Linked DNA regions of Homo sapiens. The protein of the gene in region 1 interacts with the protein of each later gene in a biochemical or structural test. Each region holds a gene or a part of one and is shown on either strand. Other genes may lie near its edges.

Evidence for each region. The genes of interacting proteins can lie anywhere in the genome.
Region 2: the proteins of NFYA (region 1) and ELF1 form a complex in vitro, tested with the Homo sapiens proteins (one study listed by BioGRID).

The regions. Positions count from the first base shown.
Region 1 is NC_000006.12:41,082,946-41,089,974, forward strand, and holds part of NFYA (nuclear transcription factor Y subunit alpha), read left to right. Parts: intron 1-1,100; coding exon 1,101-1,247; intron 1,248-6,633; coding exon 6,634-6,765; intron 6,766-7,029. UniProt on the Homo sapiens protein: Component of the sequence-specific heterotrimeric transcription factor (NF-Y) which specifically recognizes a 5'-CCAAT-3' box motif found in the promoters of its target genes.
Region 2 is NC_000013.11:41,009,288-41,016,316, forward strand, and holds part of ELF1 (ETS-related transcription factor Elf-1), read right to left. Parts: intron 5,139-7,029; exon of another isoform or gene 4,872-5,138; intron 3,908-4,871; exon of another isoform or gene 3,791-3,907; intron 1-3,790.

The DNA.
Region 1 (7,029 bases):
TGGTGATTGTAGGAGGACCTTACTATCTAACCTACTCATCTAGGACAGAATGATCTGTTAACTAATTGCTGTTACTTGCACATACTTTCATTAAGTGTGAATATTTCAGTCATGAATATTCTGTTCTAAGTAATTTCTGTCAAAGATAGAGTCTGAAAATGAAAATTTTGGACTATTCCATGGATCATTACAGTTTACTTCTAAAGCACTTTTAAAGTGCTTCCAGAAAGCATTCTATTAGGTATTTTTGTATTGGGACTTAAGATGTGACAGAGCACTTGTAGTGACCTGGCTCCTACAGTAGTCTGTTTACTCATAGGAGCTTGAAATTTGTACACTTGACTGCTCTGTGTAATTTCAATATTTGTTGTTGCTTCTGATAAAGCTAAAATAACCATGTGGATATTATAGAGGCCAGTGAGGAATTCCACCATGGAGACTGCAAACTGACCAGAAAGTGCTTTTAAGAAATCTTTAGTAGTGAGTTTAAACAACAAACATATCTAGAATTCACAGAGTAAAATGAGCAGGATAAAGGTATACATTTGACATTTCATTTTAGCTTGAGAGACTGTAGGGAAAAAAGGGTCATCCTCTACATAAGCTTCCAGAGCTGCTTGCTACCCAGCCTCCTAGAGTCATTGCTGGGTACAGTTTGATTTACCTTCTTCACTTTATTTAGAATTTGTACTCAACCACCATCACCACCATCACCTTTCCCTCTCATTGCCTTCTCTCCAGCCTTCACTACAGACCATTCCTGGATTGGTTTAAACAGGCAACTAACCTTGCCATTATGATTAAATGTTTGTCATGGATTTAGCCCGTGTTTGGTGACAAATGCCTTATATCTATTGAGACTTCTCAAAGACTCTGGATATTCTCCATTATGTCTGACCTTAAAGTATTGAGCTTGGCATTTAGTAACAGGATTCATAGATATTTAAAGATAACTTGAGGACTTGAGACATATATTTTCTTAGTCTTTTCTACCTTTTCCTTTTCTAGCAAGGCAGCAGAATAGTTCCAGTGATTGTCTTTTGGTAAAAACCATTTTGTGTCTTATGTTATTTCATTGTTCTTATTTTATTTCATTCTAGGTCCAAGGGCAGCCATTAATGGTGCAGGTCAGTGGAGGCCAGCTAATCACATCAACTGGCCAACCCATCATGGTCCAGGCTGTCCCTGGTGGACAAGGTCAAACCATCATGCAAGTACCTGTTTCTGGAACACAGGGTTTGCAGCAAGTGAGTAATATTTAAAAATATTGAGCAGTATATCAGAGGAGAGGTTTCAAAGAATAGATTATTACAACCTATTTGATAATTGATATTGCATTTAACTGCTTCCTAACCCACATTTTGCATTCAGTTGATTTTCTGCCTTTATAGTACCAGTGATATAAACTAGAACTATGCAGAAATTGGACAGCTCCAGTAATGACTAAGATATTAGGCATGATCTTGAATTGCTGTAAAGTATATGAAGAGGTTAGAATCTAGTTTATAGTATATTTTATTTTAAAAGAAACAAAAATGAGTATTTAGAAAGTTAGAAAAATAACAAAACGAGCAAAAAGTGGGTCCAAATTAATTAAGTAGAAAACTGACGTATAGAAAGGATAAATAAAATCTAGATTGTTTAAGCAGACCAATAAAACAGGTAAATCCAGTTGAAACACTGATTGAGAAACAGAAAACAAAAGTAAGCAAAGATGTAGAAGAGATTAAAGGAAGGCCAGGCGCAGTGGCTCATGCCTGTGATCCCAGCACTTGGGGAGGCCAAGGCAGGTGGATCACTTGAGGCCAGGAGTTCAAGACCAGCCTGGCCAACATGACAAAACCCCATCTCTACTAAAAATAAAAAATTAGCCGGGCGTGGTGGCACGCACCTGTAATCCCAGCTACTTGGGGGGTTGAGGCATAAGATATCTTGAACCCAGGAGGCGGAGGTTGCAGTAAGCCAAGATTGTGCCACTGCACTCCAGGCTGGGCACCAGAGCAAGATTCTGTCTCAAAAAAAAAGAAGAGATTAACAGAAATATGTAGAAATGTTACATACAACTCTGTGGCATCATATTTTAAAATTAGATATTTCTCATCGAGATGGCAAAAAAAAACAAAAAGTCATTATATCCACTGTTAGGATGGATGTGGAGAAAAAGAATTAATCATTATTTTTGGTAATTTAAAACTGTAGAGTTATTTTGGAAAGGCACCTCACTATCTGTTAAATACAATGAATATTTGAGCTAGCAGTCCCACTTCTGAGAATCTGTCCTATAGGAAGAAAAGCATCAATAGTAGGGGGAAATTACAAAGACACTTTTCATAGCATTGTACTAGCAAAAAATAAAATTGCAATCTGAGTGTCCATTAATAAGAATAAGGAAATGGTTGGAATAAATCATAATATATTCATAGGGAATATTGCATCATCATTAAAAGAAATGAACTGTTGACTTGGGGTGGGTTAATATTGAAATATTTTTAGTGGAAATAATTTGCAGAGAAATAGTGTGTGATCTCATCTTTGTAATTCATAACCAACCCCCCATGAGTATATGTTTATAGTCATGGAAAAGAGAGTATGAGATAACTATTAGTTACTCTATCTAAATGTTTATATTGTTTCAACAGTTACAGCAGTCATATTAATGTCTTAGTTTTCTGGAGGAATTTAAGTTGAAAAAAGCAGCCATGATCCCACTGCTCATAAATCAAACTTGTACTTTTTGTGTATTCTTTTGTGTTTTTATGCATAATTTTTGGGCATAATTGTACCATGCATGTGGGGTTGTGTTTTCATTTTTTTTTTTTAATTCTTTCATAATGTTCAGTCAACTTGATGAATCAGAATTTCTAATTTATAAAATATAGTTAAGGATTTTGGTTTTCATTTGCCTTTGTAGGTAAACATTTGGGCACGATAGTTTTATTTTTCAACTGAATTCTCAGGATAATTTCTTTGGATTGGGGATTGCTTGGGTAAAGGGTAAGAGTATATTTGAGCCCACTGGCATATTTTTGCCAAGATAGAATTGTACTTGGGATTAAAAATAGTTTTCACATTTCTCTTTGCATAAATATATGAGGCTTTAAATATCTTTTCAGCATGTGCTTTCCTTGATTCCCTATTGCTATATCCTTTCTGTTCTTCTCTCTTTGCTTCCTCTCCAGTCCCCCTTGCTGCGCCTTCTCCACTGTTGAGTAGAGACAATGTGGTATAGTTAGGAACAGTATACTGTGAGTGTAGTGGTCCAAGCTTTCATTACCAGGTCTGCCATTAAATAAGCATTCTGATCTTGGCCAAGTTATTTAATTGTCGGTTTGCTCATCCAAAAATAAAATTTATATGAGATGATATCTAGGGTTCATTCTAGCTCTAAATTCTGTGATTTTTATGGGGTTTTATTTTGCTATAAGGAACCTTCAAATAGTTATTTCCCTGCTTCCAAGTAGGGCTATAACTAACCAAGCTGAAAAAAATATATTCTGTTACGTAAATAAAGCTCTCTAGGTGAGATTCCATAGCCTCCCTTACAATACTTAAGGCTTTAATCCCCTTTGTATAGGAGTTTTTTTTCTCATTAGTGTTGAGTAGCCATTTTTTAAAGAAGACTACTTCTTAACCTTTTTTGAATTGTATTCTCTATTTTAGAATCCTAGTAAAGCTTGCACCCTCTAAGAAAAAGTAGAGATGTCCAGTCTCATGAAAAATTCTGCATATAATTTTAGATTAAAATCCTTGGCCTGAGAAAGATACTGGAACCAGAGAGACAGCCAAGAAATAGATAGAAGAATATTGGAAGTTGGCATATAATAAAAGTGGTATAAACATATCAATGAAGAAATGGCTGAAGAATGATACAGAAAAGAAACTGATTTCTAATTCATACTGTATTTTAAAAAATATTTGCTAGGTGGATTAAAGATCTAAATGTAGAAAAGTAAACTTGGAAAATTCAAAAGAAAATATAAGAATTTTTATGCTATAGAGAAGGATATTTTTAAAAACAAATTGACTAAAACATAATATGCATTGAAATACATCAAATAAAAGTAAACAAGGTGAAAACTTGGAAAAGATATTTTTAATACATACAACCGAGTTTGTATTCAGAATATGTATAAATAACGTTTATGTATTTATACAAAAATAGGAAAATGGGCGAAGAATATGAATAGATGGAAGAGGAAATCCTAACAGCCAATATAAACTTAGAAATGAAGTTGGTTCACATAACCAGATAAATTTGTTTACTTATTTATTTGCCAATACTTTCTGAATGCCAATTATGAGCTGAGTATTTGGAAAAAATAATTCAGAAGACCTAGGCAATCTATCCCCTAACAAAGTAGGATCCATGAATGTCTCTAAGACATGGAACCCATTGACCTGTTTTTTTCACCTTCCTTCCATCAGTAGTCCTTTTTCCTATCAGCTGGTAGACTTTGTGATAACTTAAGGTTCTAGGCATGTTCTTCTTTCCAGACCAAGGTGGTCCCAAGTTGAAATTATGGATGGAAAGTGACCTGGCTATAAAAATCTATCTTTCTGAAAGTATCCTCCTTCCAGACTGCCATCTATGTTGAAGCAATGCTCAAATAAAAAAAGTTTGTTGATGGAATTAATGGTCAAAGAAGCAAAGAGAAGGTTACTTAGTACTAGCCATGTATTCTGGCTTTTAAGTTTGGGAGGTATTCTTGAATATAAAATACAAGACATTTTGAGCTATGGGGCTCTCCTCACTGCTTTCTCTTTTGCACTTAAAAAAAAAAGTGTTCACTAGTTATATGAAAATAGGATTTTGTACACCCAACATTTAAAGGGTTGTATTGCAGTTTTTTAGTTCCAAAATTTAGAGAAATATTTTTCAAGCTTCTTGTCAGGTTTCTGATAACACTCCTAATAAAGTGGCTATAGCCATTAAAAAAAAGAAAGAAGATAGATTTGGATAGCACACGATCCCTTGCTTTCCATAATTGCTTTATAAGGTTTAGCTATCCAATCCTAGGACCAAATAGGAGATACAAATTAAATCAACAAAAATTTGACAAACATTAATGACAGTAGTGAGTATTGGTAATTGGAAACTAATAGGAGGAATATAATCTGTCACATTGCCTTAATTATCTATTACCATATAACAAATTATCCTAGAAGTTAGCAGCTTAAAACAACAAACATTTGGCCGGTGCGGTGGCCCACACCTGTAATCCCAGCACTTTGGGTGGCCGAGGCGGGTGGATCACAAGGTCAGGAGATCGAGACCATCCTGGTTAACACAGTGAAACCCCGTCTCTACTAAAAAGACAAAAAAAAAATTAAGCCAGGCGTGATGGCGGACGCCTGTAGTCCCAGCTACTCGGGAGGCTGAGGCAGGAGAATGGCATGAACCCAGGAGGCGGAGCTTGCAGTGAGCCAAGATCACACCACTGCACTCCAGCCTGAGCCACAGAGCGACACTCCGTCTCCAAAAAAAAAAAAAAAAAAAAAATTTATTTTATAGTTTCTGTGAGTTAGGAATCCTGACACAGCTGTGTTGGATTCTTTCAAGGTCCTCTCAAGGCCCTTATCAAGGTGTTGTCCTGGGCTGCAGTCACATTTGACTAGAGTAGAATACATTTTGGGTTTTTTCTTTGTTTGTTTTTTTGAGACAGTTACTCGCTCTGTTGCCTAGGCTGGAATGCAGTGGTGCGGATCTTGGCTCACTGCAACCTCTGCCTCCCAGGCTCAAATGATCCTCCCACCTCAGTTCCCCAAGTAGCTGGGACCACAGGCATGTCCTACCATGCCTGGATAATTTTTGTATTTTTCAGTAGATACAGGGTTTTGCCATGTTGCCCAGGCTGGTCTCGAACTCCTGACCTAATCTGCTCGCCTCAGCCTCCTGAAGTGCTGGGATTATGGGCATAAGCCATTGTACCCGGCTTTCAGCATTTTTAATATATATAGTATTTCCTCTGTAAAAAAGTACTTCATCATTCACCAAAATGGCAAGATTAAAAAATAATAATAAAGCACTTTAGAGTGTATTTTATTTTTTTATTTTTTTGAGACGGAATCTCGCTCTGTCGCCCAGGCTGGAGTGCAGTGGCGTGATCTCGGCTCACTGCAACCTCCGCCTCCGGTTCAAGTGATTTTCCGGCCTCAGTCTCCCAAGTAGCTGGGATTACAGGCATGCACCACCATGCCCGGCTAATCTTTGTATTTTTAGTAGAGACAGGGTTTCATCATGTTGGCCAGGCTGGTCTCGAACTCCTGACCTCAAGTGATCCACCCACCTCGGCCTTCCAAAGTGCAAGGATTACAGGCGTGAGCCACCACACCCAGCCCAGAGTGTATTTTAAATATGCATGCTTTTCAATATATATAATCATACCACTGCTATCTTTCATAAAAACCGACATTGATTTGTTAATATCAGGTATCCAGACAGTGTCGAAATTCCCTATTTGTTTCATAAATGGAAAATAAGTTGTGTCTACTTCATAATGGAGGGCAGAGCAGGACTTCTTTTTTCCTCTTCAGAACATTTTCTGCTTTCTAGAGAAATGTGGATAACTCTCGGGGACCAAAGGAGACCAGTGTCAGTAGAGTACAATCCTTTTTTTATGTTCTTTTCTGCAGATACAGTTGGTCCCACCTGGACAGATCCAGATCCAGGGTGGACAGGCTGTGCAGGTGCAGGGCCAGCAGGGCCAGACCCAGCAGATCATCATCCAGCAGCCCCAGACGGCTGTCACTGCTGGCCAGACTCAGGTAATTCCACTAGCTCTGTCACACAGGAGCAAAACTGATTTGGAAGAGTCAGATAACTGAGTCAGATATTTCATGTATAGCATGTATAGTAGAAAAGGGGATGAAAACCATAAAAAAATATATTTTTGGCCGGGCGCGGTGGCTCATGCCTGTAATCCCAGCACTTTGAGAGGCCGAGGCAAGCTGATCACAAGGTCAAGAGATCAAGAACATCCTGGCCAACATGGTGAAGCCCCGTCAAAATACAAAAATTAGGTGGGCATG
Region 2 (7,029 bases), on another chromosome or scaffold:
AAAAAAAGTATAAGGTTTGAGAACTGCTACACAATCACAACGAACGATTCAAATATCCTTACAACTGAATCTTTGGTCCCATCCTTAAATTTTCTTTAGGATACCTACACCAAGAACTGAAAGGCACATAGACTTTCAAAGCATTTGATATCATAATGCCAACTGCCCTGCAGAAGATTTTTTCAGTTTATACTGTTAGCAACAGAATACCTGCATGGACATTTAACATCATTTGCAACAACCCACAATGCTTGAACTACTGCCAATATGATGGATAAAAACACAGGGGGGCTATTTGACTTTAATTTGCATTCCTTTGCTAGAAAGTTTAATATATTTTAATTTTAAATGTAATACTTTAATATACTTCCCAATTTTAAAGAATTGGTTATTCTTCGTGGAAAGGGCTAGGAGACACAAGTAAATAAATGGTAAAGGTGACAGTCTATGATTTTTCTCATTGGGAAAAAAAACTTCGAATTAATGTTTTTACTCTAGTTCTGGTTTAGAAAGCTTGCATTTTTTTAAACTTCAATTTAATAATGTAAAACTCTAAGAATGATATTTAAATTACTAGTTGCAATAGTGCAGCAGTTCTCAAACTTTTTGGTGTCAAGATCCCTTTATATTCTTAAAATGTATTGAGGACCACAAAGAGCCTTTGTTTTCCTAGGTCATATTTATCAATATATGTTTTTTACTTACAGGATATTATTACTTATTATATGCCCTTTAAAGGAGTCTTTTCTCAGAATAGCATATTGAAAAAAAAAAAAACTCCCTGGGATTTTTTTTTTCCTTGATTAAAAATAATGCTGTTAAATATACATGCTTTGGGCCAAGCATGGTGGCTCATGCCTGTAATCCCAATATTTTGGGAGGCCAAGATAAGAGGATCGATTGAGCCCAGGAGTTTAAGACCAGCCTGGACAACATAGCCAGACCGCATACCCACCAATAAAAAAATAAAATAAAAAAGAAAGAAAGAAAGGAAAAAAAAAAAAAACACAGAAAAGAAATTTGCACGTCATAGTGGTATGCACTTGTAATTCTACATGGGAGGCTGAGGTGGAGGATTGCTTGAGCCCAGGAGTTTGAGGCTGCAGCAAGCTATGATTGTACCACTGTACTCTAGCCTAGGCGAGAGGGCTACACCCCTATCTCCCCCCCACCCCCCCAAAAAAATACATATAGGTATGAGGTGTATGTGTGTGTGTGTGTGTGCACACTTTCCTTGCCTTAGATCACATGTAGCACATCGAAAACTAATCTAGTTTATCTATGTTTCTCTAATCTTTATATAATTATAATACATTTTAAATGGAGGTTAATTAGTAAAATATATGCATATAATTTATGAATAGTTTTTATTTTTTGTTCATTGCTATATCCCAACATCAAGAATAATATGTAACAGGCAATAATTGCTGAATGAATCAATAATAATATAGATCAAAAGGTATATAATAAAAATTTAAGAGACCTCTAATTACATGACTTTATAGGAACCCTCAGACAATGAAATCTTATGACTTCTATTTCCATTTGTTCTTTGTCCATGCCACTGCTTATACATACACTATGGGAAGTATTTCAGGAAAGAGAGCCAAGGGATGATGAAAGTAAAAACCTGGGTTAAGATCTATGTTTTCACTTTCTATAGCAGTTTCCACATTTACATTGTTAAATTTTGAAAGCTTTACCTGAAGAATGTATATCTAGTTTATAATGACAACAACAAAAATCACTAAAGATTCAGAAATTGCTACCATTACAGTAAGAATTCTAAGGAAGCTACATGAAACACTGATCAGGAAGCAAGATGAAACACTGAATATACCAGTAAATCTGGTTAGATTCAACAATCTATTAGCTACTTAAAAGTTCATGGATGTTAATACTATACTAATTATTTTATGAATGTTTTTGTTTTGAAATGTGTTTTTGAGAAGTATTTGAATGTGGGATAATTCTGAAGATGAAACCTAACTAAATTACTTCTAGGTAACTAAAGCTCCAATTTGTTAATGGATCTCAACTGGAAATTACTATTTATTCATCTAGAAGTATGCCTAGATCTTCTTAGTTATTTGGGACAGACACACAGTCTTATAACACTTACATCTGAATCTACCCAATCCCTCTTGCTGAAATAGGCAGTTAACTTTTTTTTTGAGACAAGGTCTTACTTTGTTGCCCAGGTTGGAGTATAGTGGCACGAACATGCCTCAGTGAAGCCTTGACCTCCTGGGCTCAAGTGATCCTCCCACCTCAGCTCCCCAAGTGGCTGGGACTACAGTCACTCACCATCATGCCTGGCTTATTTTTGTATTTTTAGTAGAGAAGGGGTTTCATCGTATTTTGCAGGCTGGTCTCAAACTCCTGGGCCCAAGTGATCCACCTGCCTTGGCCTCCCAAAGTGCTGGGATTACAGGCTTGAGCCACCGTGCCTGATCCCATTTTTAACTGATGCAGAGTTTTCATTTTTTTGAAATAGGAGGGTCTCACTATGTTGCCCAGGTCTCAAACTCCTGGGGTCATGCATTCCTTCAACCTCAAGTTCCCAAGTGGCTGGGACTACAGGTGCATCTCAGTGCCCCTGGCTCTGATGCAAAGTTTATTGCCACATTCTTTCAAGTCAGCTTTTACTACCGGTCAAATTAAACATTATTCCTCAAGATACTTATAAATGTGGGGCAAAAATAAACTATAGCTTACAGATAAAAATGTATTATGAGGCCAGGTGCAGTAGCTCCCACCTGTAATCCCAGGACTTTGGGAGGCTAAGGTAGGCGGATCACTTCAGGTCAGGAATTCAAGACCAGCCTGGCCAACATGGCAAAACCTCATCTCTACTAAAAAAATACAAAGATAAATTAGCTAGGCGCCATGGTGGGCACCTGTAATCTCAGCTACTTCGGAGGCCGAGGCAGCAGAATCACTTGAACCCAGGAGCCAGAGGTTGCAGAGAGCCGAGATTGTGCCACTCCACTCCAGCCTGAGCGACAGAGCAAGACTCTGTCTCAAAAAAAAAAAAAAAAAAAAAAAAGAGTATTATGAAACAGTTAAACCAAAGAGGATTCATCTATCTACCACCTAGCTTTATATTTTACCATAGTTTGTTTGTTTTTGTTTTTCTGTTTTGTTTTTAAGAAAAAAAGGTCATCTACAGTTAAAGCTTCCTCTAATATCCCTCTCCAGTCTCATTTTATTCCTTCTTTGACTATTCTAAGTTTGATTTTTTTTTCTTTTCTTTTCTTTTTTTTTTTTTTTAAGAGACAGATTCTTGTTTTGTCACTCAGGCTGAAGTGCAGTGGTGCAATCATATTTCACTGTAGCATTAACTCCTGGGCTCAAGCAATCCTCCTGCCTCAGCTTCTCGAGTAGCTGGAGCTACAGGAGTGTGACACCACACCTGGCTAACTTAAAAAAAAATTTTTTTTTTCTACTTGTAGAGACAGGGTCTTGCTATGTTGCCCAGGCTGGTCTCGAATTTCTGGCCTCAAGTGATCCTCCCACTTAGGCTTTCCAAAGTGCTCAAATTATAGGCATAAGCTACAGTGCCCACTTGTCAACTATTCTAAAATTGGTATCTTCTCTGTTATATATTTTTATAACTTTACTACATATATATCAAGATAGTAGGATTGCTTTTATATGCATAATTGGGAACATGTATTTATTAAAATTTATTTTTTATTCAAAATTATGTTTGAAATAACTCTAGTTAACAAATGACAAGCATACTGAATTGTTTCAGGGGTCAAATATATTGTTGTCTACAGCTTACCCTGAAATGCATCAACTGTCCATCTGTTTAGGGTCCTGGAGGATTTTACACCCCAGGGCAATATACCATAGAAAGATTCTGAATGGGTTAGAAGTCATCATCGGCAGATATCTGATCCTAGGAAAGATAATGAAGAACTCTAAATTACATTAAACTATCTATACTCTGCAAAGCCTTCACATCCCTCAATGTGAAGATACTGCTCTACAGAACTTCTACATTTATGTCCCGGGGAACCATGTACAAGTGTTCCCAAGCTCAAAATAATCTAATGCCATCAACAAGAGAGAATAAATACATTCTGGTACAGACAAACAATGGAATACTATATTGCAACGAAAAGTAACATAAGTCACAAAGCTGAATGAAAGAAGCAAAGTCACTACAGAATATATGGTGTGATTCATGTGTATAAAGTTCAAAGAGGTAAAACTATAAAGAAAAGATTATCGCAAAAGTCAGCATAGTAGTTATTTTTTAAAGGAAACAAACATGAATAGGAGTGGGGGCCTTCTAGGGTAATAGACATACTCTATATTTCTTAACATGGGTTGTTTCTCAAGATACTTATAAATATGAGGCAAAACTGTTTAAATAAAATACAAAATATTTACCCATGTTGTAACACTTTATAATTTTATTTAAACTCTATGTTTTATATATATTTTCCTACATGCACATTTCATTTTTAAAGAAAAAATAATGAATTGCCCCATTACAATACTAAACTTCCATTTAGTATTTTGATATAAAAAATAAGATGTACATAAATTGTTACACTTCATTTTAATAGTTTTATTATAAAATTTTATAGTTTTACTATTTATGGGATTGTTTTCTAAACCCAGAAACTAATTTTCTTTAATTATATTTATATTTTTAAAATTGTACCATGTAACAGCCCAGACATAATGATCACTATATGACTGGGCATCTATCACGTAGATACTGCAGCATGTAAAGTCATACTGGTGCCTGCTACTTTGAAGAGCTTCTAATATATAGAGTAGAACACAGGACGAGGACAAATCACATGAAAACACAAACTTAAAAAATAAAAACAACTTCTCTAAGTGGTTACCTTTGGACAGCAGGACTGAGAGTCAGAAGGGGCAGAGGAGGCAGGCTCCTTTTCATTATAGACCTATGAATTAAATTTTGAATGGTGTGCATATATCACTTTGATAGCTTTTAATATAAAAATTGTTAAACCAATCTTCATACAAACTATAGAAGGCAAGAGGGCTCTGACAATGAGGATGATGTTAATACCTGGAAGAGAAGGAATCAAAACATTTCTGCATAGAAATTTGTATATCCAAAGCTCAGCTGCATAATTTCTCCCTCTCTGTCAACAAAGCAAATAGCACACAATGAGTTATTTTCCTCATATAATAACTTAAGGTGCTTAGAACCATGACCAGAAAAGACATTTGTAGTACTGCTCAACAGCCACTTTTATTATAGTATACAGCTCATTTGACAAGACACAAAAAACTCTTTTGTAGGTTCTCCATACTAATGGAAGGAAGATTGTTCAGATAGTTGGAAACTGTCCTAATCATTGGAGTTGACTCAATAATGGTACTAACTTAATTTCAACCATTTATATGAAGCAGCTCCTAAGTAAAGGAGCAAAATAGTCTGGCTAATTTATGGAAGCAATGATTATCTTCAAACAATTCAAATGAGGGGAATTTTCTTCTCATTTATCCAAGTCAGTGAATACCTAACAATGTCCCATTAGATGAGATGTAATGTTAGGCAAAACCTACAAATATGCAATCAAAGATGCAGTTAAATATCTGAAGAAGCTTCAAAAATCATATCCAAGCATTACAGGGTTAAAAAAAAAGTTACTTCCTCCCAGACTCAAACAAGTACATACTATTGTGCTAGTCTTTAAGTCACCCCTGCCCTCCCCCCAAAAAAAGAAAGAAAACAAAAATATTACAAATAATAATAGTGTATTTCTCAAGAGAGAAGAGCTTTCAAAAGGCTGTAAATGCCACCCTAAATCAGTAAGGGGGTGTTTTTCCTAAAGCCCCAGGAGTAAGAGTATGGAGAGGGAAACCAAGAAGCAACAATTGGAACCAAAACAACTAACACTGGAAGAGTTCACTGAGAAATAAAAAATAGGTTAATTACATTAAAAAACAAAGATTATTTATTATGGCCAATATGGCAGTAGGTTTCGGGGGTGGATCAGAGAAAAGGAAAGACGGATAGCCACATAGTTGAACAACATATAGCACAGCAAAAAAAAACAGACTAGAGAAAGGGATAACTGGGATGGGAAAGGAGCCCAAATGGGTTCTAATACTGATAATAAAGTACTCTAGTTGCTTTCCTTCCTTACTAGAGGCTATGGGCTTCAAAATAGCATTGCTGCCTAAAACTTCAAATATTTAAAGGCAAAATAGCTAATTCCTCTTCATAGCCTTAAACCTGTAAACTCTCTTTCTGAAAATGTGGCATATAAGCACCTATGTCATAATCATTTAGGGTACACAGTAAAAAATGCTGATTGTTTAAGCAAATCCTACGCCTAATGAATCAGAATTTCTGAGTTAAAACTGGGTGATTCTTTGTTACACCAAAGGTTGACAATTACAGCTTTAAAGGTAATACTATCATAGTATTACCTACAACATGCAGACACCAGTCAGAGATTAAGCTGAGGGCCACATGCTTTTTAAAGATGTGCCATCTTTAACTTCAGCAAGATGGCCAACTGAATTTGTCACGTAAGATGGCAAAAAAGAGTAGCCAAAGGTTTAATACAACAAATAATACCTGTCTACTCATATGTGCTTGGTACTTTGTCAAAGGTTGAAAAAGACAGAAAAACAGAATAAAACCTTTCTCCTCTCAAACAGCGTATATTCTTATTCTTATTGACGAAGACACTCTTCTTAACATAGGTAAATGCTATTCAACGTTCAGCATTCATCATTCCTTCAAGATAAACTCTCCTGAGTATTCTTTCAGTCATCTTTTATCTCTAGGCAATCTGAATCTGAATTTACCTAGTCAGTGGTTGGTTCTGTTCTTTACTTCACTTGTTAACAAGCCCTGTTTTCCCAACAGGAATTTAAGTTTATGAAGATAAAGCCCATGTTCCTAGCCTTTTGTGCTTTTTGTTTTTTAGGACAATGATGGCCACACTGTGGACGATTTCGCACCGAATTGAGTTAGGGCACTCAGAAATTTAGGAGATTCAGCAGTTATGCATAAAC